Linked DNA regions of Homo sapiens: regions 1, 3, 4 and 5 are each linked to region 2. The links come from fine-mapping of genetic effects on plasma protein levels. A gene starts in region 2. Each other region holds a variant in brackets. All regions are shown on one strand. Distances are from middle to middle. Region 1 overlaps CDK5RAP2 (CDK5 regulatory subunit associated protein 2). Region 2 holds the start of GSN (gelsolin). Region 3 overlaps GSN (gelsolin). Region 4 has its middle 32 kb from the start of RAB14. Region 5 overlaps MEGF9 (multiple EGF like domains 9).

The links. PIP is the chance, under the fine-mapping model, that this variant and not a neighbour inherited with it causes the effect. Protein levels are from antibody-based Olink assays in UK Biobank. Linkage for the fine-mapping came from a reference panel and not from the study's own genotypes, which makes the PIPs less certain.
Region 1: its variant is fine-mapped to the plasma level of the GSN protein (UK Biobank, PIP 0.92).
Region 3: its variant is fine-mapped to the plasma level of the GSN protein (UK Biobank, PIP above 0.99). The variant lies in the coding sequence of GSN. If it changes the protein, the assay may bind it differently, which can mimic a change of level.
Region 4: its variant is fine-mapped to the plasma level of the GSN protein (UK Biobank, PIP above 0.99).
Region 5: its variant is fine-mapped to the plasma level of the GSN protein (UK Biobank, PIP above 0.99).

Annotation. Positions count from the first base shown.
Region 1 is chr9:120,531,205-120,536,305 of GRCh38, reverse strand. All of the region lies in intron 7 of CDK5RAP2 (CDK5 regulatory subunit associated protein 2), which reads left to right. Among named protein-coding and RNA genes, the nearest start is that of CDK5RAP2, 46 kb to the left of the region's middle. The variant A/G (reference allele first, on the strand shown) is at 499.
Region 2 is chr9:121,265,799-121,270,902 of GRCh38, reverse strand. GSN (gelsolin) reads right to left here and starts at 2,741. Exons shown (of 18, transcript NM_198252.3): 1 at 2,684-2,741. RefSeq lists a silencer at 2,554-2,853.
Region 3 is chr9:121,319,502-121,324,591 of GRCh38, reverse strand. It overlaps GSN (gelsolin), which reads right to left. Exons shown (of 18, transcript NM_198252.3): 11 at 3,191-3,324; 12 at 1-38. Among named protein-coding and RNA genes, the nearest start is that of GSN-AS1, 37 kb to the right of the region's middle. The variant G/A (reference allele first, on the strand shown) is at 3,228.
Region 4 is chr9:121,230,887-121,235,990 of GRCh38, reverse strand. It overlaps a transcript of GSN not described here. Among named protein-coding and RNA genes, the nearest start is that of RAB14, 32 kb to the right of the region's middle. The variant G/C (reference allele first, on the strand shown) is at 2,229.
Region 5 is chr9:120,640,952-120,646,055 of GRCh38, reverse strand. All of the region lies in intron 2 of MEGF9 (multiple EGF like domains 9), which reads left to right. Among named protein-coding and RNA genes, the nearest start is that of CDK5RAP2, 63 kb to the right of the region's middle. The variant G/A (reference allele first, on the strand shown) is at 2,489.

The sequences.
Region 1 (5,101 bases), 730 kb after region 2:
CCTTTTATTCTCTTTTATCCCTCCCTTCTCCCCATGTTTCCCATAGGACTTGAGTGACTAATGGGAACAAGTCCAACACAGTTAGATAGAAAACTAGGGATAAAATCAGGAGGAAGAGAAAAGGAATAGCATAGTCATATGAGGTCAGAGATTGTCTACTGATAGACATTCATGCTAAAAAGTTCCACTCAGATACTAAAGTTAGCATTTGATTTTGCCCATGAGCTTCCTGGGAGCCAAAGGAAAAAGGGTAGAGACAAGATTTACATTGCAAATGAGGTAAAACAAGCTAGTAACTCAGGAGAAGCCCAGTTTTACTTGGCACTATCAGAGGAAATTTCTCTTGTGGTTCTTCCCAAAGTGAACAGTGAGTGACTGCCCCCACAAGAAATAACAGTGAATTTCGTGTGACTTATATTCCATTATATCTTTTAATGCAGCCCAAGGCCCAAATGAGTACAGGGCAAGGTGTCAAAAATAAAACAGTGTAGACCAAAT[A/G]CAGAGCTCTTTGATGATCCACGATAAAATGGGTGCCTTCTAGTTTATTGGGTAGTTGATATGTCCTTTAGGCAGTCTTTAGTGCCCATCATATTTTGCAACGAAATTTTTGGTAAAAACTTGTCAGGAGAAAGTTGAGTTTATTCCTTACCATAAACCTTACATTATGATACTCTTGCCTTATTTGGCAGTCACTAAATGGAAGGTTAACTAAATATAAGTCCAACTGCTGGCTAACCTGTGACCTATCTGTTGAAGAGCCGAGCTTGTTTGGAATTTGATAGAAATTGTTCTAAAGCAAATGATCTGTTTCGGAGGATACTGACTGGCTCCTTTTTCTTGGTCATTTGGTGCCTGCCCTCTGCACTGACTAGCACTACTGTGTTGTTTAGGTGCTTGGCCTAACTGCCGGGTTCCTCAACTCTTGTCTGCTTTTACTTCTGCCTTGGTACCACCTGTGGAGATTGGAGTCTGCTGCTTGGAAAATCAGATGAGCAAATCCTAATCTTTGGGATAGGATTATCTGTAAAAGAAAAGTAAATAGACCCAGAGGGAGAGCCCATGCCTCCATGTAAGTGCCCTAGCTTCAGCATTTGGAGGTGCGAGCATTTATTTGGTGCTCTGCAATCTTTTCTTAGCTTTGATCTGGAAAATGAAAGTTTTATGATTAATAATTTCAAGGTGAGTGAGGAAACTGGGTTCCCCATGGACCTCAGTGGAATGAATATATATCATCTCAGTTTACCCATTTGACACCTTGTGTTTTTCTTGACTTCATGGCTAGGAAGAGAAACTTCCCTGGGAAGTGCCCTCCTACTGAGCCTCCCCCCAGAGTACTGGCCTTTCCAGGCATCACCCATGGAGCCACTAGACTGTGAGAATTCCACAGAATCATTTCCGTGTTCCCTTGTATCTCTCCCAACCCATCAGCAGTGAAGCCCTTAGAAGGCTTATGGGCTTGTCTTCCTGGGGGAGCTACAGGTCTGGAGCAGTTAAACTGGGAGTAGGGGACCCAGGGAATAGAGTATGTGAGCAGCCACCAAAGAAGAAAAGACTGGCAGAATTCCTGGCGCCTGTGAAGGGGAAGGAGAGGGTTTGGGATAGGTTTGAAAAGAGGTCCTGGGACAGAATGAATAGAAAAGGCCCTCTGAGGGTCCTGACAGATGCTGAGCAGTCAGTTAATTGGTTCTATTGGATCTTTATGCCTTTTATTCAAAAAATATCACCTGAGCATCTTCTACTCAGCACAGTGGTGATGAGAATGTAAGAAGGAGTGATACAGCCTGGGTTCCTCTCCCCAGGAATCTCATTGTTTGAGTTGAAGCTTATCATCCAGCAGGGTGGGAGGGGTGGAGGGAGGAGCAGGATGATAAGGGCTAAGTAGGATCAATGCTGGGTTAACATATATCTAATTCAGTTTAGAGGGATTAGGAAAAGCTTCCCGGGAGAAGTACTAGGAAGAGGAAGAATTACTTGGACAGAGAAAGGAAAGTAAAGGAACAGTGCGAGTGGAAGTCCAGAGGCAAGAAGGAACATGGCAGGATGCAGGTACAGGAGGGTGCATAGCCTGGCCTGAGTGCTGTGTTCTGGAAAGGAGTGGGGAAGAGGTGAGGAGAGGGAAGCTGGGGAGGTGACATGGACCTTATTGAAGAATTTGAGTTTTATCCTAAAGGCATACAAGAAGCCACTGAAGAGTTAAAGGTGGGGCTTCAGGGAATGACAAGATCAGATTTAAATTTAGAAAGGTCTTTCTGCCTGCCCTTGGGGAATGGATTGACACTGGGGCTGGGTAGAAGACTGGTTCTCAGGCTGATGCAGAAATCCAGGAAAGAGCTGATGGTGACCAAAGTGGAGGTGACAGAGCTGGGAATGGAGGAGAACAGGCTAGAAGGTAGAGTGGATGTGATGGGCTTGAAGGGCTTGGTGACTGACTGGATCTGGGGGATAAGGGGAAAAGCTACAGTGACACACCCTTGCCCAGGCATTTTTTTTTTTTTTTTTTTTTTTTTTAGATGGAGTCTTAACTCTGTCCTCCAGGCTAGAGTGCAGTGGCGTGATCTTGGCTTACTGCAACCTCAGCTTCCCAGGTTCAGGTGATTCTCTTACCTCAGCCTCCTGAGCAGCTGGGATTACAGTTGCCCGCCACCAAAAAAGCCTGGCTAATTTTTGTATTTTTAGTGGAGACAGCGTTTCACCATGTTGGCCAGGCTGGTCTTGAACACCTGACCTCAGGTGATTTGCCGGCCTCTCAAAGTGCTGGGATTACAGACATGAGCCACTGTGCCTGGCCCTTGCCCAGGTTTTGAACATGAGCAGCTGTGGGGTGGTGCAATTTATTGAATTTTGTTGGGGGAAAAGGAAAAAGAGGAAATGTTTTTGGGTGGAGGGAGAGGGAAGATGATACCTTCAGTTGGCACATGTTGGGTTTGAGGGCCTGTGAGCTTCAGTGAGTAGAGTCTAGGATGTGGTTGGGTGTATGAATTAAAGCTTGAATTAGAGGAAGTATAGATTCATTCCTTAACCAACTACTGAGTGTGGCCTTGGGAATGCGTGCTGGGAATGCAGGGCTGAACGTTGTCCTGCTTCTATGGTGCTCTCAGTGTGGGAGGGGATAGATGTTAAAAAAAATATATGTCGTGATTGATGCCGTGATAGAGGTGAGCCCAGGGTTCCGTGCTGTGACAAAAGCAAGGTGTGATCAGCTCTGCCTGGGCGTGGAATGGGGAGGGCTTGTCAGACAAGGAGTCCTGCGAGTTGGGTGAGGACGCTTTGCCTAGCAGAGAGAACAGCACGTAAAGGTACAGAGCCTGGCACATTTTAAGGTGATCCTAGAGGAGAGTGGTCCTGTTAGCATGTGCCACAGAAGCTTAATTGCTCATCTTTTTTTGGAAGGGGGACTTTGGGAAGGGTTAACGTGTATCAAGTACTTACTGTGTTCTAGGTGGTAGAGTCTCCATGGATGTCGGATCAGAGCTTTGCTAAAGGCGGCATCTTCCTGGGATTTCCCATAGGTCTGACTGGAGAGGCACCAAAACCCAACATGTCAGTCCTATGAATGCAGCTGTCTCTCAGGGATAGCTGTGTCCCAGGCGCACTCCCAGAGATCAGTGCAGCAGTCAGATGCCAGCTCTGGATTTTTGCTCAGGGTGTGGCCCTCTTTGTGGTGAAACCTTCCTGGGTGTGTAGGATCAGCGTGTTCCCTCCCTGAAGGCAGGCCTGCCTAGGAAGCTAAGTCAAGGTCAGATGGTTAGCAGAAAACTGGAGCCAGAGTCCTTGGTTTTGCCCTGGTGAGACGGATCCAGATCTGCGACACAGATTGACTCACTGTTGGGCAGGGCAAGGTATTGAATCTTTAGGGCCCAGGGACCCCTCACGTGGATGGACTCTGCCAATATCTTTCTGGGCTCCCACCACCCTTTTTAAAGGTGCATGCTTTAGCTACTTTATTGTCTTCAATCTGGCCTTTGAGCTGCTCTGTGTCTTTAAGGCAGTTAATACTGGGAAGTCCTGCAGATCAAATATGCCAACAGATATGATCTGTTTGGCTTACAGTATTTTTTAAAGTGTGAATTAGTTGCCAGTATGTAAAAAATTGAATTTCATGCAGAAGTCTGGATTTCCACCTTCTGTTTAAAACCTAGGAGATTGGCAGCCCTGGGTATCATCTTGCTGGATTGAGGCTACCCCTCCCCTTAGATGGGCTTGGTGCTCCAGCTTGGCCACAGGAGTCCCCACCAGGCCTGCCTACTTTTTCTTTTCTCTATGTAGAACTTGCTTTAAGGTAACTAAAAAAAAAAAAAAATTCAGTTTTATTGGTGTATAAATTACATACAACACAGTGCTTCAATTTTAAGTGTATATAGTTCGGTGACTACCTCTCCCATTGATTATGTGACGATTTCAAAGTTGAGCCCCTAGAGGGCAATCTTACACCTCTTTCCAGGTTTTCTGGGGCATTGCACTGGTGCTGCCTGGCACCTTGTCTCCTAGTGCATTGCTAGGTGCTTTAGTTACCTTTGTCTCCCTCTTTACCTTCATCCCAGGAAGCTGTGCTTCACTAGGGCAGCTCTGTCTGACTGCAAAATCTTTCTTCTTTCTCCCAAACTAAGTTGCTTTCTTGGTTTAGCTGCAGAAAGGCTATTCTGAGGGTCTTCTGACAAAATGCTAATTGTTACATGTTAAAAAAAAAAAGTAATAATTATAACAACTGTCATTTGTTGAGTTCCACCATATTCCAGGAGCAGTGCAAGATTGTTTTAAATAGCTTGTCTCTGGTCCACAATCACAAGTCACCCCTATTTTGTAGCTGAGGAGGCACAGGCTCAGAGAGATGGAATTACTTGCCATGGCCAAGGGGCAGTTGATATGGGATAATTTGGTAATTATATTGTGTTATTTGATAACACAGCCCAGAGAGGGATGTGTTCAGCTGTTCCTGAGTGGGGCACTAGGGGTGCAGGTAGCAAAGCTTCCTGGAGGGGAGCTTAATTAGCTTTGGCAGGATGAATGGGTGTTTGTCAGGTAGAGGTGGGGGTGAGGCGGGGGTAGGGTGGGGAAGGGCATTTTAGGTAGAAGGAATAGCACGAGCAAAGGTGTAGAGGCA
Region 2 (5,104 bases):
CCCAGAGGCCGCAGACACAGGATGTAAAAGTTTTCTTAAAGAAAACCAGAGCTCAGTGTCTCAGCAACGTACCATAGACCAAGCAGAAATCATCTCTATGACCCACATCACAAATGACCCAAACTATTCACATGGAGTAGGGGAAAGTGACCCACTGTCACTGGATGGCTAAAAGTGAAGGCATCCAATCAACGTGTTTGGCAGGAGTGCACACACCATTGTTAACAGTGGCGACCTCTGGGGAAAGAGGCGGGCTTGGAGGGATTCTTTAACAATTTTTGTTTGTTTTAAAACTCATGAAAAAGAAAAAAAAGTTACAATGCTGAATACCTTAGCAACCTTCTCCAGTAGGTCTAGCCTGTTGTCTGCTTTTAGATGAAATTTATAGCAGGTTCTGAGACCTTCAGCTGGGCTTCCAGAATCTGCTGCTCTGACCCATCCCAGTGGCCACTGCTCTAGTTCAGACCTGCAATCTACTTCACTTGAATCATGCAACAGCCTCCTCAGGGCCTTCCTGCCTCCAGATCAGCCTCGTTCAATGCATCCCCTACATCAGCCATTCAGAATAACGAGTTTTTAAAAATCACTGCTCTGTCAAAACCCTTTCTCAGCTCTTCATTGCCTTCAGGATGAGGTCCAAACCCTTAGCTTATAATCTAGTTCCATTTTCATTTAGATTCTCAACCTCCCACCACCCCGCCCTTCTCCCATCCTCCACTCTAGCCACATGGATGGCTCAGAAAATCTCAGTGCCTTTGCACTAGTGGTTCCTGCTTCCCAGAATGTCTTTTCCCCCAACTCCTGTTTCTCCTGGTAAATGATTATTCATTCTGAGGTCTGGCTCACCTAGACAAAATTAGTCACTCCTCTTGCAGGCTGAAGTCACTCTTAATATGGCACAAAAGTGTCAAACAGTATAGATGGCAAGCATCTTGAGGACAGAGAGCTCTGTCCTCTTCCAAGGCTCTTTGGCCCCTCGCAGGGCAAGGCACAGAACACAGGCCCAGAGAAGTGCTGAAAGGAGGGAGGCGGGGAGGAAGGAAATGCCATGCGGGGCAAACCCTGCAGCCACCCCTCCTGGGAGCAGCCTGTTTCCAGGCTCATGTTAGTCCCTAATAAAAGGACTGTGGAAAATTCTGGAGTAAACTTTCCTCCCCTGATTCACACAGAAACCTTCTTTGCTGCTGTGTAACTCACCGAGTGCCAACCCAAGCTCCCCTGGCTGTTTACAATTTCCCTGGCATTTATAAATAGCATGGCCCCAGAAAGAAAAATGGAGTTTCAAAGGAGCTGAAAGCCGACCGTTCCCACCCCCATCCTTCCTCCTCTGTTTCCAAGCCTCTCCCCCTTAACAGCCCCAAGAAACACCAACCAGCACCCCCAAGTGTGTATGTACAGGGAATGCTTGTCCCTTTAGTAAACGGAACACCCAAGAAGGAGGCTAGAGTCCCTCCCAGCAAGGAGTCCGCAAACGGCAGACCGGAATTGGGTCTCAGCCCTACCCTGCCTCACTGTGTGACAATTAGCCCATCATAAACTCTCTGGGTCCTTGACTTTTCTCAACTGTGAAATGGAGGAAATGGAGATGGGGTAAGATTCTAGCAAGCTATGGTCGCTGTAAACGGCAGAGCGGTGAGAGGTCCTGGTGCCCTGGTCAGAAATGTGGTCCTGGGAGAACAGGACACACAGGATTAAGTGTTTGAAAAGTCCCCAGATGCCAAACAAAAGCGAAAGGCACCTCCCCAGAGGCCCCGCCTTCCACAAAGTCCAATTACCCTCAGGACAGCCCAGAATGAGTTCTGGGTGTTTTAAAGCTCCCTTCCATGCTCTGAGGAGGGTGTGAAGACAGGATAAAGCGACAGATGTCTGGGCAGACAAGGAGCTAGGAAGAAAGCCAATGTCTCCTGCTCACCCACACCCCCAGCCCCCAGCCTTCCAAGGACTGGGGCTTCCCCCTGGGCACTGCCCAGACCAGCCAGCCTGCACTGGACCAGAGGGAAGTTGCTGTTATTTAGGTTCTGGGGGGCTGGACCCCAGAAGACATGGGGGCTCAGGGAGAAGGGGTTCCAATCACTGTCTTCAACTCCAGAAGAAGCTTCCGTGTGAGTCAGGGAAGGGAACACTGCAGGGCCGGGGAGAAGCCAGCACCTACAGGTAGCAGGCGCCTGAAGATTTCAGACAGTGTAAGGAAGAACTTTCTAACAGTCCCCAGAAAGAGGAAGCAGCTGGAGAGGAGAGCAGGCACAGGTATCGTCCAGGAGGCAAGGGTCCTCTGAGTGGACTCCCCAGCAGAGTCACCGCCCAGACCGTAGCTGGTGGTCCCCTGCATGCCCGGGTCAGACAACCCAAGTGCAGGGGTGACCCCGGGCCAGTTCCCCCATCCCGGGGGCGGGGTCGAGGTTATTAGCTCAGGTGCTAGCAGCACAGTGGAATCACGGGGTGGAGGCCTGGCCCCTCTCCTCTCCTGCTCCGGCGTCTCCCCATCCCCCAACTCCCATCCACACTCTTTGGTCCCTTGGAAGACGGGAAAAGTGAGCGAGGAAGCCCTTTTCCAGCGATGCCCCCGCGGCCGGGCCGAGCTCCAGGCGCGGGCGAGATAGGACCGGGAAGGAAGGGAGAGGAAGGACTCAAATCAGCCCGGGACCCCCAGATGCCCGGGGCCGGGGCCGCGCGCCTCCCCTACCTGCTGCTGCGGCACTGGAGACAGCGGCTGCTGGGTCCAGCTGCGCTCAGCTGGTTCCGGGCGGCGGGGCGGGGGCGTTGTGGTGCGCGCGGCCGGGGTGGGCAGGGCGCGGGCGGGAGCCGCCCTCGGGGCGGGGCGGCCGGGCAGGCGGGTGGGGGAGGAGCGCCAGGCCCTCCCGTCGGCTGCTGGGCGGGTGGCTCCAAGCTCGCCTTCGTCCAGGGGGACCCCTCGCTTCACCTCGCAGGAAGGCACCAAACCAAGCCCTCTGCTTTCCCCTGGAGGAAACTGAGGCCCGGAGCACGGAGGGGAGATCTGAAGAGGCCTAGGGTCGGGGAGGAGACCCAGGGCAGCTCCTGAGCTGGGCTGGGGCCAAAGAGCTCAGATGGGACGGGCAAGCGAGCAATGCTCAACTAGCACCAGCGGAGGCAGATTTCAGCCCTGGAGAGAACGGACTTCAGGAGGCAAAGCCCTCGAAGAGTGACATAGGCTGCATGCAAAGCAGGGGAGATTCCCTCCCACGGAAGGGAATAAGGAGGAAGAGCGATTCCCAGCTCATTCCGAATGAAGTAACGAAAATGCCAAGTGCATCCCTGGTCCTTAAAGTGGACCATTAAGCAGGCGCCTCGGAGTCAGAAGGCCTGGTTTGGAACCCCAGACATCGACTAGTCCTGTAACTTTGGGCAAGCGAGCTCACATGTCTAAGTCTCCGTTTCCTCGTTTGTCAAATGGGCATCCTGAATTGCCGCTTCATGGGGCGGTTGAGAAGACTCAGTGAGAAAAAGACTCTCAGCACAATGACAGGGACCGTGGCTTCTGCATAAACGGAAGGGATGTTCTTATTAGTGTCATGGCAGATACTGTTTTAGGAGATTGAGGAAATCCACATTGGGTAGAAAGATGAGTGCAAGGTCAATTTTAAGCAAATGTAATACTTTGTTGATTTCAACAACATCTCATATGCATTTGAGACGATAGCCGTTTATAATGCAGCAAGGCATAAGACGGCCTCCCAGCAGTCCTGGTGCACACATGAGTTCCCAGGACTTTTGGAGTTGCCGCGTGACTCCGGTTTGGAAGGATTCACACACTCCACAGGAGACTGCACCACATGACAGAGATGTCCATTCCCAGCCTGGGTGCTGGCAGCAGCCCCATGTTCAGCCAGGGTAAAGCTCCCTCTTAACACAAGGTAAAATGTACTAGAGTCAGTAATTGCCGGGTGCTGGGGATCAGAGCAGAAAAGGCTGTTGTTTAAGTAGCACAGAAGCCAAGAGCACAGTGCTCACTCCCTGGTTTTTCCATTGAATAGCAGCCAGGGAAGCCACAGGACCCAGGGAATCTCACCCTGGCTCTTCCTCCTGCCATTCTCTCTTTGTTCAACACCAGTAAATACAAGAACCATTTCTTGAATGCCTCATGCCATGCTCTGGGCTTCCCACGTATTACCGACTTTAATTCTCACCTCCCTACCTGGCCTCCTAAGGGAGGCATTACCATGTGTATTTTTCAGATGAGCAGGCCAAGCCCACAGAAAGGGTTAAGTACTCTCTGGAGGTCACACTACTGATACTGTGCAGTCTACTCTTCTATGCCTGAGTCCTTGGCCCTCGCTTCTTTGCTCAATGTCTTATGTCACACTCTGCCACCTTTCCTGGCTTGGGAAATTCTGCCCAGTTCCACTTTCTCTGAGAATACAAGCAAGGTATCCACCCCGCAGGGAGGCTCACACCATCTCTGCTACTCTCTGCTTTCTCCAGAGGCTGCCTGGGGCCCAATGCAAGGCTGCTGGGGAGAAAAGCAAAAACACAGGCTTATTTGGCTCTGGAATCTTTGATTACAAGCCCCGGCATACACATGCCTTGGAATTATCTAACATATCATTTCCAGCCCCAGCAACTGCTCTCAGACAAAGGGAGGTGGAACTCTGAATCTGTGTCCCCATAGAACTGGAGAATACCACATCACGATGGAGGAAACATTGGAGAATGTCTGCTCCAACTCCTCCCTTTAGAGATGGAGAAACTGAGGCCAGGAGAGCAAAAGGGTTCACATTCTAAGCTAGATCTAAGGTTCCATATTCTAAGCTGGGTCAGATGCCTACCCATAACCCTGTAATTGCTCCATTTGGTGGCTGGAGAGGAACATGGGAACAGGGTATCACCAGGAATCATTAGAAATGATAATGAAGATAATGATGATGATGATTGATTGATGATGATTGTGATGATGATAACCAATACTTACATGGGAGTGCTCCTCTAGGAACACTTCTAGAAATCTCCTGGTGCTTTGCTTTATGACTCAACATGTGTATTTTATAGCTGGCAGGATATATCAAGTCTGCCTTTCATGGATGCCTAGAAGTCTTCTTGGTATCCTGTCTTCATTCCTTTCTAGATACCTCTTTGTACTTCTCCCCCC
Region 3 (5,090 bases), 54 kb before region 2:
ATGCAGCGACCTCATCCTGGGTAGACTGGGCACCCTGCCTGGAAGGGGAAGTGAGATTCAGCATCAGGGTGCACACAGAGCCCTGAGCCTCTCCCTTGCCCTGAGTCTGAGAAACCTACACATCTCCCTGTTACCAGTAATGAAACAGATAGAGAGGGAAGGGGACTCTTTCAGAACAACGAGAGCCAGGAACCACACCAACACTTCCACTCTCAGCCTAGCATCTTGCCCGCTTACAGAGATCTTAGTGCAACGCATGGATTTCCTTATGCTAAATGTGTCCCACAGGAGACTGGCTGGGTCATCCCATGCTGAACAGCCACAGAGAAGATGCTCTGAGACTCAAATCTGAGATGCAGAAAAGTGGCCAGGACATTTCTCTGGGCGGAAAAGCAGGTCGCAGAATAGCAAGTGTTACGAGAGCCTATTTGTGGGAAAAGATGTCAGTGATTAAGCCTCCCATGAACACGTGCAGAGAGGTCTGCACAGATGTTCACCAAAAAGGTCCATGGTGATTGCTCTTAGAGGGAAGATTTAGGGGGATTTTGCCTTTCTATCCCACCTCTTTGCATATTGTCTAAGTTTTCCATAACCAACATATGTCGTCGTATAAGCAAACAAAATCTGACCTATTAATGCGCTGATGCAGCTAATTTTTAAAACAGTCTTCTCACACATTTTGTACCAGGTGAATGTGTTATCTAGTCAAAAAAAAAATTAAGCTGTTTTTAAATGTCTGGGGTTGTCAAATTGAGAGACATTCTACAAAATAACTGACTAGTACCCTTTAAAAGTGTTAAGGGCATGAAAAAAAGGAAAGACCGGGCAACTGCCATAGATTCAGAGACTTTGGAGACATGATGAGTAAATGCCATGTGGGATCCTGGGTTAGATCCTAGATCAGGAAAAGAACAGTAGTGGGGGCCGGGCACGATGGCTCATGCCTGTCATCCCAGCACTTTGGGAGGCCAAGGCAGGCAGATCAGTTGAGGTCAGGAGTTCGAAACCAGCCTGCCCAACATGGTGAAACTCCGTCTCTACTAAAAATACAAAAATTAGTTGGGTGTGTTGGCGCACACCTGTAGTCCCAGATACTCAGGAGGCTGAGGCAGGAGAATTGCTTGAACCTGGGAGGCAGAGGTTGCAGTGAGCCGAGATCATGCCACTGCACTCCAGCCTGGCGACAGAGCAAGACTCTGTCTAAAAAAAAAAAAAAAAAACGGTAATGGGAAAACTGAGGAAATTTAGGTAAAGCCTATAGATTAGTAAGTAGTATTGTGTCAATGTTCACTTCCTGGCTTTGTTAATTGTGCTATGGTTATGTAAGGGTTATGTAAGATGTGAACATAGGTGAATATTCCATTGGGTAATGGATATATGAGAACTGTCTGTACTATTTTTGCAACTTTTCAGCAAGTGTCTAATATTATTTCAAAATAAGTTTAAAAAAAGAAGGAATCCAGCTTGGCGTGGTGGCTCATGCCTATAATCCCAACACTTTGGGAGGCTGGGGCAGGCAGATCGCTTAGAGGAGTTCGAGACCAGCCTGGGCAACATGGCAAAGCCCCATCCATACTAAAGTATAAAAAGTAGCCGGGTGTGGTGGTGAGTAGTGGCAAGTAGTCCCAGCTACTCAGGAGGCTGAGGCACGATAATTGCTTGAGCCCCGGGGGGCAGAGGTTGTGGTGAGCAGAGATCGTACCACTGCACTACAGCCTGGCCAACAGAGCAAGACCCTGTCTCAAAAAAAAAAAAAAATCCAACAGTCAATAATCAGACAAAAAGTTTTAGACTGTATAGTAAGAGAAATACAAGTTAAAAATACACTGAGACACCATTTTATAAACCATAAGATTGGCAAACGCCCAAAAGTTTGACCACACAATCCACGAGTGTGACTATAGGGAACCAGGGACTCTCACAGGTTGCTTGGTGGGAATGTAAAATGCTACGAACACTATCGAGGGAAATTGGGGGCTATCTACCAAAATGACAAGTGCAGTTACTCTTTGACCCAGCAATCTGACTTCTGGGAACTTACTCTAGAGGCATGTCTCTGCATGTTCAAAGTGATGTTTGTTTAAGGTTACTAATCACAGCAATGTTTGTAATAGAGAAAGACTGGAATCAACCCAAGTATGCATCATCAAGGAATTTGTTAAATAAACTATAGTACAGCCACCCAAAGGACTATTATGCAACTGTAAAAAAGAATGAGAAAGCTCTCTGTCTCTATGTACTGACATTATTGATCTCTAGGAAGAATGGAGTCAGAAAAGCAAGGTGCAGGGCAATATACAAAGTATGCTACCTTTTGTGTAAGGAAGGGAGGGACCAGGCTATAAATTATTTGCATATGTATTTTTTTTCACGAAGAGTTACTGGAAGGATATGCAAGAGAGTAAAGCAGTTACCCAAGAAGGGGTGGGGTCTGGAGAATGGGGTAGAGAGGGACAGGGGTGGGAATAAGATTTCTCAATAAATACCTTTATATTCTGTTTTGATTTTTGAACCATGTAAATGTATTCTCTGTTTTAAAATAATTTTGGGGCTGGGTGTGGTGGCTCACTCCTGTAACCCCAGCACTTTGGGAGGCTGAGGCAGATGGATCATCTGAGGTCAGGAGTTCGAGACCAGCCTGGTCAACATAGTGAAACCCCGTCTTTACTAAAAATACAAAAAATTAGCCAGGCATGGTGGTGGGTGCCTGTAATCCCAGCTACTAGAGAGGCTGAGGCAGGAGAATTGCTTGAACTTGGGAGGCAGAGGTTGCAGTGAGCGAGACCGCACCACTGCACTCCAGCCTAGGCAACAAGAGAAAAACTCTGTCTCAAAATAAATAAATAAATAAATAAATAAACAAATATAAATTTAAAAAAATTTTGGCTTGAAAAATATGTGTGGGAGGATAAACCCTAGTGTGCCTAGTACTTGTCATGGATTTGTGGGAGATGTTCTGTTTGTTTCTCCACATTCACTATATCCTACAATAGATGTATAATCATTTGGTAAGAAGAGTTTCAAAGTTGTTTGGAGAAATAAGCAAATGGTGTTGCCCTGTGGACAAAAGCCTCTCCCAGCAGGGAGTGGTGGTCCCACCTCAGGCCCTCACACCCTCAGTTTGTCTTCAGCCCTGCTCAGGGCCCAGCCAGTACCCCCACGACACACACCAATGGCCCCAGAACCTCACCAGTTATAGATTATCTGCCCCTGGCGGCCACCATGGC[G/A]GTAGTTGTACAGAATGATGTAGCTGTCGCCTCCATAGAACTGTCCATATGTGGCAGGGTCCACGGGCACCTTGTTGGAACCTTCGATTCTCCAGATCTGCAGGAGCAAAGCTGGAGTCAGATGCTGTGCAGCACCCCCACCCCCCAGCTCAGGCAAGCCAGGAAACCGCAGTGTGGTAGGTTGTGGTTAGGCCATGGGATGAACTTTTAATCACTTGGGCTCGGACTGGAGTTAAATGGTTTGCCCAACTCACAGAGCCACTAGAAGGCAGGGCTGGGACTCTGGGTCAGGGTTCCTGCCTGGGCTCCTCATACCATGCCCTGCCCCAGCCCGTCTGTCCTTCGCTGAGGATCGTCAAGGCAGCTCCAAAGGAATGCAGTACAGTGAGGGGAGGAGCCAGACACAGACCCCAAATCAGGCCCCTCATCCCCTTCCGGGCCATGAGACCTCAGACAACTGGCTTAACCACTCTTAGCCTCAGTTTTCCCATCTGAAAAATGGGGATAATCATAGTACCTACCTCAAAGTACTGTGAGGCTCAAACGAGATTACTCGTGAAAGTCTAGCACAGGGCCCGGCACAAAGGGACTGCTCTGTAGGTGGCAGCTGCTCTTATTGTCATAATTATTATTATTATCTTACTAATATCACCATTACCTCTATTGTTACTGAGCTGCCTGGATTCTTTCTTTTTTTCTTTTTTTTTTTTTTGTTTTTTGAGACGAGGTTTCACTCTTGTTGCCCAGGCTAGAATGCAATGACGCAATCTCGGCTCACTGCAACATCTGCCTCCCGGGTTCAATCAATTTTTCTGTCTCAGCCTCCCGAGTAGCTGGGATTACAGGTGCCTGCCACCATGGCCAGCTAAGTTTTGTATTTTTAGTAGAGACGGGGTTTCACCATGTTGGCCAGGCTGGTCTCGAACTCCTGACCTCAGGTGATCCACCCGCCTCGGCCACCCAAAGTGCTGGGATTACAGGCGTGAGCCACTGTGCTGGGCCTGCCAGGAATTTCATAGGTCACCTGCAGAGGCAGGGACACCACGAGGCAACCTCAGTGTGACCCCTGCTGGCAGGTCTCCGCAGCGTTCTGGTGACACTGCTTTTTCCAAGTGGTCACGAGGCCCGGCAGCGCCACCTGGTGGAGCTATGGAGACACGGAGTCGTCCAAGTCCTGGGAAACAGAATCCTAGAATCTCTGGATTTTGAACATTCTTGAAGGTGATGGAGTGGGATGAAACCCCACTTTACAAGTGAGAAAGTGAAGCTCAAAGAGGTTATGTAACTTGCCCAAAGTCTCACAGTCAGGCTGCCAGGGGTCTTACCACACCGCCCCACCCGAAATATTTTCATTGCATTCTCCCTAGCCACTGAAGCAACAAATGAATGCTAGCACCAAACCAAAAACAATAATATATAAAAATGAACACTTTGTTATTCCTATCATTAGGAACGGAGTCAAGTTTGCCTGAGGCGGATTCTACCTCCTAAACACCTCTGAACCCCACACCCCTCTTCCCCTTCTCCACTGTGACCTTCTTAGTCTCAAGGTCATCATCTTTCCCCTACAGTATTAGAACAAGCTCCTTATAAGCTCTCTACCTTCATTTTCCTGCCTCCAATCCATTTTCTTAGTTTTCTTTTTATTTTTCTTTTATTTATTTTTTAACTGATTTTTTTCTTCTAATGATATCCTGGAGTCATATTCCAACCCATTTTCACAGTGAGTTTCTAAAGCAGGTGGCCGGGCGCAGTGGCTCATGCCTGTAATTCCAACACTTTGGGGGGCCGAGGCAGGAGGATTGCTTGAGCCCAGGAGTTTGAAATTAGCCCGGGCAACATAGCGAGACCCTGTCTCTATTA
Region 4 (5,104 bases), 35 kb after region 2:
CCACCCAGTTCATGATACTTTGTTATGGCAGTCCTAGAAAACTCATTCAGACCCTCAAGGAAATAAGAGCTATTTGGAATATGTGGCCGAGACTGCTAGGTGTTCACCAAAAGGCTTTCCATTCTACTTTTTTGCCTAAGTATAATAGGAGCCAGGCACATGGCTGTCCCCCTAGACTGTCTTTGCCAGCCTTGCTTGTGTTTAGGGTGGCCAGGTGCCTGAATTCTCACCAGGGGAATGAAGTGGGAGTCACGTGTCATTTCCGGGCCTGGGTTCTAAGATAACCAGCAAGCTTTCTCCACTGTCTTCTTTCCCACCAGCCAGAACCCAGCTGCACCGATGCAGAAGAGAACACTGCCCTGGGGAAGAATGAGCGACAAAGAACCAAAGCTGCCCTTCTGCTCTGGGCCACTCACCTCAAGGGGAAATAGGCTACTCTAGTTTGCCTTTTTATTACAGGAGCTTAGCTTTTCCTCCAAGTGATCCATGATTCTTGAGCTGGACAGGGAGAGAGGCACTGAGAATCCTAATTGTCTTCCAGAATAGGAACGACCAGCCCTTGGAAGACAGTGGCTAAGCACATAATCTCTTTGGGTAATCTGGGACTTTGGACAAGCTGAAGCTAAAATTCTCAGCCACCTAAAAGGGAGATGAAAGATGTGGAAACCAGTAGGGTGGCTGCTTCTGAAAGCATCAGGTATCTTGATTTAGGATAAGGACAAGCTCACGTCTTGAGATGTTTGCCACAAGGCACAAAGTGAAACTCACGACTTTTCTCTGGCCAGATGGAAACTGTTCACTGGGGCCATGGGTGCGAGATTGCTAAAGCCAAACTCGGATTCGGGGAGTTGCTGAATTTCAGTGACAGCCAACGGCATGACTTTGCCAGGTTTCCTTTAGGAAAGGATGGTGATATCTGGGGCTTGCGAGAGAACTTGGAGAATTCCTACCCACTAACCATCTTGGTCTGCAGCCTTTCCTCTGCGCCTCCCTCTCATGGAGAAGGAAGGAAGCTAACACTCTTCCTTCTGCCCCACACCTCCCTGTTTCTCAGCTGGGAACTAACTCCATCTGGAACAGCCAAATTGTTCTCATGGCAATGTCCTACATTTATTTATTTAACTATTTAATTTATTTGTTTAGAGACGGGGTCTCACACTGTTGCTCAGTCTAGTGTATGGTGATGCAATCATAGCTCACTGCAGACTTTAACTCCTGGGCTTAAGCGATCTTCCAGCCTTGGCCTCCCAAAGTGCTCGGATTACAGGTATGAGGCACCATGCCCAACCCTACATTTATTTTTTATCTGGATTTGCTTTCCCTGCCCTTCGTGCCTCCACCAGCACCACAGCCTGAGGGCTTATAGAAGCTTTTACCTAGTCATCGTATGTCACACGATGCTCCCTCTTATCAAGGAATTCACTTCATGGCAAAAGTGGCAGTGACTTAAGGCCTGTGGGATTCACTCTTCACCTAACAGACCCCACCCATGACCCAGGAGCAGCTGGCTCCTATAGCACAGTAGAATGGCCTTGTGGAGGCTCACAGTGCCCATGGGGAGATAACTGCTTGCTCCCCTCCGGAAGGGATCGGTGCTGTGAGTCAGCATCCCATATGTGATGCCATTTCCTGTGTCTCTCTATTACTTTTCAAGATGTAGCAGTGAGGCAGGCACTGCAAAGTGTCTCCCAATAGCCTTTCTTACTAGAAGTAGTAGAATTTAGAGCTGGGTGCATGGCCACCCAAAATCAAGATACCATTTTCCAGTCTCCCTTGCAGCTAGGCACGGCCGTGAGATACATATTAACCAATGGAATACAAGAAGAAGCCACATGTGGTGGCTTTAAATAACCTTCTACAGGAGAAAGCACCCTTTGTGTTTGCATCCCTTCCTCTGTCCTATTGCCTGAAGTGTCATCTTGACCCACGAGGCTTAGGTCATGCATTGCATAAAAAAAGCATAAAGAACCAGGGTCCCTGACATCTTAGAGCACTATTCCAGTCTGGATCACTTACCCAGACTTTTGTGAGAGAAAGAAACTTTCGATTTGTTCAAGGCATTATTGTCTGGGGTTTTCTGTTGCTCAGTGAAGGCAAACTGAATTCCAATCGAAACAATTGCTTCAGGAACGAAGGGGTGGAATTGCTCAAGGTGACACCTAACATCTGCTCTCCAAATGTTAGACTTCCTGTCCTGAGACTCTAGGCCTTGCTAGCTATAGGTTTTA[G/C]GGTCTCTTTTGGCTATCTGTTGCTGTACAACAAACCACTCCAAAACTTTGTGGCTTTAAATAGTAAAATATTGTTATCTCTCATGGTTCTATGAGTTGGCTGGGCTCAGCTCAGTGGTTCTTGCTTGGAGTCTCTTACGAGGTTGCAGCCAGTTGCTAGGTGGGGTTGGAACCATCTGAAGGTTTAACTGGACTGGACATCAAAGATGGCATCTTTATTTGACCTCCTGTGCCTCAGTGGTCTTATTCTGTGTGCCTGGCAGAATAGCCTGGATATTTATTTATTTATTTATTTATTTAGATGGAGTCTCGCTCTGTCACCCAGGCTAGAGTGCAGTGGCGTGATCTCAGCTCACTGCAACCTCCACCTCCTGGGTTCAAGAGATTCTCCTGCCTCAGCCTCCTGAATAGCTGGGATTACAGGTGCATGCTACCACGCCCGACTAATTTTTTGTATTTTTAGTAGAGACGGGGTTTCACCATGTTAATCAGGCTGGTCTTGAACTCCTGACCTTGTGATCCACCTGCCTCAGTCTCCCTAAGTATTGGGATTACAGGCATGAGCCACCGCGCCTGGCTTGCCTGGACTTCTTATGTGGCAGCTCTGGGCTCCAAGAGGGAGGAAGAGGAGGTTGTTAGTCTTATTAAAGGCCTACCTCAGAGCTGACAGAGAGCATCACTTCTACCACATATTGTTGGTTAAGCAGTCTCAGGCCAACCCAGTATTCAAGGGCTGAGGAAACACATTTCACCTCTCAACAGAGAAGTGATAGGGAATTTGTAGCCGTCTTTAATCCACCACAAAGCCCAAGGGATGAAAACTTCTATCAGGGGACTCAACAATGGTTCCTCTGAATTGTAAGCTGAGAGTGCCATCGAGCCACTTTGTCTCCTCAGCCACAAAGCAAACATCAAGGAAAGCGGAGGTTCTTGAAAGGAAGTACCCATGAGTCTCTACTTCTATGATCCATGGAGTTTTGGTTTCCGGCCTGCCTGAGACCTAACTGTTGCCTTTCCTTTGGCAGAGTTCTTCCAATCAATTTCACAAACACAAATACTTTTTATTTTCTTGGCTCAGGATAGCAAGATTGAATAAGCTCCATAGATCTGCTGTACAATATTACATCTATAGTCGATGATACCATATCGTACACTTGAAAATTTGTTAAATGGGTAGTCCTCATGTTACGTGTTCTAATCACAATAAAATATATTTTTTAAAAAGGTTGCAAAATTGGAGTCTGCCCCTTAACTGATACGTTCATCCCTATCATGCATACACACATGGCTTTTTACTTATGTAACTCTGCCAAGAGTGCCTGAGGCTGTGAAAAAGGGATAACTGACTAACCAGCCCCACCAGATAAATCAGAAGCCTGGCTTTAATCTATACAGACTAATAATTTTTGCAATCATAGTGAGGGCCCTAAGGTGTCAAGAAGATTTTCAATCACATTTCCTAGATTTCCTCATTACATAAATGTTTCCTAAGATCCCACCAGATGCCACACCCTGTGCTCAGCACTGGACAGTCATGAAGCAGGTCCAGTCCCTGACCTCAAGGAAAACCAGTCTACATTGTACCACATTATAACAAGTTAGGTTTGGGATTATCAAATCTTCTGGTCTCTCCCATCACTTCCTCCCATATTAATCTGGAATAGCTGCAAATGCTTTTATATACATATATATATTTGAGACAGAGTCTCGCTCTGTCACCCAGGCTGGAGTGCAGTGGCATAATCTCAGTTCACTTCAACCTCCGCCTCCTGGGTTCAGGCAATTCTCCTGCCTCAGATTCCCAAGTAGCTGGATTTACAGGCACCCGCCACCATGACTGGCTAATTTTTATATTTTTAGTAGACACGGGGTTTCACCATGTAGGCCAGGCTGGTCTCAAACTCCTGAGACCGCTTTGGCACCCCAAAGTGCTGGGATTACAGGTGTGAGCTACTGCACCTGGCCTGCTTTTATATTTTTAAGATTAAAATTTTTTCCCATCTTTCCCTTCTCTCTCTCTTTTTCATGATTCCCCATCTTTAAAACAATAGAAGCCTGCCTGCTACATCACCACGAGAGCTCATACTGTAGGACTCTGTGGTCACTCTGTTGAAAATTTGCAGCACTTTCTCTTCCCTCTTCCCAGCTCTCAGTTGAATTGGCTGGAGTTCTGATACCCACTGACATTACTGTTATTTTGTTTTTTGTTTTTTCTTCTTCTTCTTCAAAATCATGTCTGAAGTTAATTACAGCTTCAAAGGGCTTTTCTGGTCAGTTTCTTCAGTTGAGGCAGTTGGTTCTGGGCTGGCTCGGTCTCCGCTACCTTCACCCAGTTCTTATTTGAAGTGTAGAGTCCTTGGTAGATAATATTAACCTAAGGCTTTCACGAGTTATCAAAGATAGAGAAGAAGGAAATCCTTTACAAGGATAGAAAAGAAGAAAAAGAAATCCAAAGTCACCTGCTTTCCTCCCAATGACATTTTCCATGGAAGGAATGCCGTTTGCTGATGAGAGTACTCTTCCACCTTCACAAGGCTCTGCAGCATTGTGGAGCGTTTTTCACAGCGAGCTCTTCTTTCTCCTTCTAAACAGTGTGACCTATGGAAAAGGACAAACATGGAGGTCAGAGAGTGCCTGATGGAATCCCAGCTTTGCTTCTCGTTGGCCCTGGACTGCCAATTGATCATGTACTAAAGGAGGAGTATAGCGATGCTTACCCTTTGGTTTTAGCGTTAGGAATGTGATTACCCTGCACGTAGTAGGTGCTCATGAAATCCATTGAGTGATGCTGTGAAGTTTGCAGTGAAGAGATTATGAACCCTGATTTACGTGTGAATAAAATGAAGTTCACGAGAGTGGGAGTAGGACTTATCCTA
Region 5 (5,104 bases), 620 kb after region 2:
TATTTCTAAGTTGAACTTATGGAAATGCTTAGGCACAAAGTTCCTTCTCAGGCCCACACCCTCTCCCTGTGCTTACCATTCTTCCTTTGTTGCAGGCTGCAGGAATTGAATCTGCTTTCCTATGCTCCAGCAATTGCTACCACCCACTGTATCCCATGGGATTTTTATTCCTGCATTAGCCTTGCTGCTGAGTGTCAAGCAGTGTCCCCATATCCACATTCTTTCTGCATTACTGAAAAGAAATCCAAAGGCCCTTTACCTTTTAAGAGTTTTTAAAACTGTTAATCTTTATAAGGAGGCCTTTGAGGGTAGCAAACAATAGATATTGGAAAGTTGAAAGCTTATATAATTGACAAACTTTACTTCTTTTATTTTTCCAATTAATTGCTCTGGCCCTCATATGCCTAAATAGCATAAAGTCAAGTACTCTCTCCTCTTGATGCAACACATTATCAACAGGTAACTAATTGTCCTATAACTCTAGGGGTCAGTCCTCCTGTGATGCTAGGTATAAAAGGAATGTGATTCTGATCAGTTCACTAATCCTACTGTTTCTCACTGCTACCTGGAATTGTTGGGGTGAAGCCTGGTCCCTGAACAACCTAATGGATGGATGATGCTTGCTCACAACTGTGATGATGCTTTAACTGGTCCAGATCCTTGCAGAGGCAGCAGTGATTCTTTAAGGGAGGATGAACCCAATCCCTTAATGCCACATTCTTTCAAGGATGCTCTAAATTAGGTCTCCTAGGTTCTAGATCTTAACAATCAGCTCCTTCAGTTTATATATGCAGCCACATCTCATTGTGTAAGCCGGTCCCAAGAGTACTTTTTGAGGACATTTTGTAGAATCTTTTCACTAACAAACCTCAAACTTTCTTCCCTCCCCAGGGCTTAAGCGCCTTTCTTTAGTCACTCAAAATATAAAGAGTCTTGTTAAACCCTTATCTCAGGACAGTAGGGCCTGTTCATGCTATACTTATGTAACTAAAGGAAACCCAACTTAAATGATTTTTCACAGTCAGGAGGATCTGCTTCAGGGTTATTTTCCTACCTCTACCCAAATGGCAAAGCAATTGCACACTTCTCTTGCTAAAGAAGAAAGGAACTACAAATTTAATCTTTATAAACATCTCTCTTATAGGGCATTTTACTATACTTAATGTGTTTTAAAACCTTACGAACATGTAGTGTTTTCCTGTCTGTAGTTTGACTTCCTTCTGAGACAAAAATACCACACAACTTGACAAATGCTTCTGACATTATTACTACCACTATCAACTCCAGAATGAACAGCACTAACATTTACCGACTGTTTACTATGTGCCAGGGTAAGTGCTTTATATTTACTGTCTTGTAAGGATAAAATAACAGTTAATTGAAGGTGATATATTCTATTTTACAGATGAAGAAACTGAGGCTTAATTTGCCCCAAAACAGACAACTAATAAGTGGCAGAAACTGGCTCAAATTAATATCTGTCTGACTATCCTGCCTTCAGTGGGTCCTAGTGTTTGTTAATTGGTTGGCCGAACCACTGCTTATTTTCAGTAAGCCTGATAGCCATCCTTTAAGTTTAGCTATCATACAAACAGATTCCTAGCATTAAAAATTATCCTCTGTGTGATCAAGGTAACATCACTAGCAATATGTCATGAATATTATGTATCCCTAATGTGATGAGATGAGAAAGATACATTACATTTGTGATAGTCTTCCTCAAAATTCATAACCTCATTCTAATTGTGACAAGAGATCAGACAAACCCAAATTGAGGGAAATTTCACAAAATACTTGTCAAGTTCCCTTAAAAGCTTCAAGGTCATAAGAGACAAGAAAAGACTGAGAAACTGTCAGATTGGAAGAGGCTGCGGAGACATGACGAGTAAATGCGAGACAATATCCTAGATTGGATTCTGGAACCGAAAAAATGGATACTGGTAGAAAAATTAGGGAAATCTGAGTAGTTAATAGTATTGTGCCATTGTTAATTTCTCCTTTTTGATAAATATGTCCTGATTACATACGAAGTTAAACAGGCCGAGCCTCATGGTGCCTCACACCTCTTATCCCAGCACTTTGGGAGGCCAAGGCAGGAGGATCGCTTGAGCCCATGAGTTTGAGACTAGCCTGGGCAACATAAGGAGACCCCATCTCTACAACAGATTACACAATTAGTCAAGCATGCTTGTAGTCCCAGCTACTTGGTGGTGCATGCATGTAGTCCCAGCTACTTGGGAGGCTGAAGTAGGAGGATCGCGTGAGCCCAGGAGGTCAAGGCTATAGTGAGCCATGATGGCACCAGTCTGGGCAACAGAGCTAGATCCTGTCTCAAAAAAAAAAAGAAAAAAAAAAGAAACATTAGTGGAAGCTGGATGAATGGTAGATTAGAACTTCCTGTACTATCTTTGCAACTCCTCTTTAAATCTAATATTATTTCAAAATAGAAAGTTAATAAAATTGTTATTTGAAGCAGTCATTCAAGGGA[G/A]TATAGACAGTATTATTTATTTGAGGGCAAAGTTGGTCCTTATGGTAATTCTTAGCCTTAAGTACAGAAGAGAAATTAGGATAAGGAAATAAACTTACTTTGTTGACCTGCCATTTTAGATGTATGACATTGTGGTTAGAATGTACAATCAAATTCATAGCCTATTTTAATGTTCTTTTTTCTCTGCAGTTTAAAATGAATAGCTTCTAAGACTCATGTTAGTAGACTTAGGCTAAAATAGAAGGCCTCTTGTTCCCACAGAGAAGGCTTTGTCTTCCTCTCTATTCCCTGAAAGAAAATTAAATCAGCATGACTTTTTCCATCTCAGATTTTTTTTTTTTCATAGCAAGAAATATGTTTCCTAGAGGATGGAGATAAATATGGGACTGTTCAGCTTTTTTTCCTCCCTGGATGTGATTTCTTCTCAAAATACCTAAATTTGTCAATCCTAGAGGGAGACTTGGACTTGAAGTTTCTTTAGATTTTCCATAAAAAGGGACACAAATGCTTCAGCCATGATTATTTTGACATAGTATATAGGACTAGTTTAAAAATTATAAATTCCATTATTATGGCTTTGTGTAGATTAAATGAATATTCTGGTGTGATATATTTTGTGTGTTTCAACAATTTGGGGTTTTCAATTTAGTTTTTCAGTTTGGGGTTTTCTACATACACTACAGAAGGAACATAGGCATGTTTCTCACATTGCCAAAAGCAGTAATGCAAGTATGGCTTATATTGTCAATAACAAAATCTCTTCCTTCTCTTTTGCCAGTTTCCAACACATATACCATGACCATTACTTTAATTAAGTTTTACTTTTGCTGGCCTTGAATTGATTTTCAAAGGGTTCTGCAATTGAATAGAATGTCCATTAAAACAGATATTGTGGATATTTGAAGGAAACATTTTTACAGAGAAATATATTAGCTTTCTTGACTAACATGTTCACCGAAAGAAGCTGCATAATCCAGGAGAGGCAGCAGGAGGAACAGAAGGAAATTAACATTCATTGAACACTTTAAACCTCCATTCTTGATGTTTTACACATAAAACCTCTCTGACTTCTCAGACAACTCATCCATTTTGTTCTTAGCAGCTAAATTACTTAGCGACATGGCATAACTAATAAATGGCAGAACTTAGATTTGAGCCCAGATCTGTCCGGCTCCAAGTCTCTTCCCACTGTACCCTGAAATAGAATAGGCAAAATTAGATATGGCAGTGTGAGCATCTCAATGTAAGTGCAAGGCTAGCTGTGGGTGAGTATGACTCATCAGTTTAGGTACTGGCCTATGGAAATATAAATCTAGAAATCAGACCTGGGCTACAATGAAAATAAATACTGAACAGAAGGCAACAATAAAAATTGTTAAGAGTATACATACAGAATCATTGGAAAGGAAAAGGCAGGAATTAGGGCATTAGAAATATTTAAAGCTAGGTCTGTGGTTTGGGTGTCAGAACATCTGACTTGCTTGGGTTTAAGTTAAAAGGCAGGCATTTGATATGTGAGAAGTCTGAAAGCAAGTGTCATGGACCTAGTCATTGTGGTGGAAAGTGGAGAGGCAGGGCCACTGAGACCAGGAGCCAGGCATTGAGAAACTAGGGACAATAGTTGTAATTAATCATTAGGAATATAGGGGACTGAGGACAAAGGAACCAGTAGCAAATGGGACTTGACAGACCGCTGAGGTTGATTGCCTTAAGTACCCTCTTCTTAGGTTAGAATTGATACCAAATTCAGGGTTCATCACTATGCCTGGAAGTGGAAAGTAAGTAGCTTTACCAGTCAGGGATAGGGATATAAAAAATAGAGTGAAATAAGTACAGTTAATTTAGTAGAGTAGTTCTCTAATTATGGTCCCCAGACCAGCAATATCAGTTTAACCTGGAAATTGCTTAGAAATGCAAATTCCTAGGCCCAACACCAGACCTATTGAATAAAAAAGTCTGGGATAGGGCCCAAGAATCAGCATGCTAAAGTTTCAGAACCACTGATCTATGTTGGTGGCTCTGAGTGTGTTGTCCTCAAAACCTAAGGTCAACTTATGCAGATGCAAACTAGAACTAAGAAAGAAGGGTTTTTTTTGAGGCATTTCAACCTCTATTCTTTGTTTTTATGAGAATTGTATAAGCTAAAGAGGCCCTATTCAGTAGGGTCATGATGGAATATTGGGGTTGAGCAAAATGGATTTTTCTTTGAGGGCTAGGACTTTTTCTTTCTATCTGCTCTTCTTTATCTTACTTTAATGAACAAACCTGAGGGATCACTGTCTTACAAGGTTGATTGGCCTATCATGGGCTAGTCATTGAATGTCTCATTTTGCTCACCTAGAATGAATATTCTATTTCCAAGATTCTAAGAGGTTTATTTAAGTGTGACATAAAGTGTCAAGATTAAGTGCATGCTATTCACAATAGCAAAGACATGGAATTAATCCTGATGTCCATAAATTGTAGAATGGATAAAGAAAATGTGGTACATATACACCATGGAATACTATGCAGCTGTAAAAAAGAACAAAATCATATCTGTTGCAGCAACATGGATACAGATGGAGGCCATTATCCTCGGCAAGTTAATGCAGGAACAGAAAACCAAATACCACA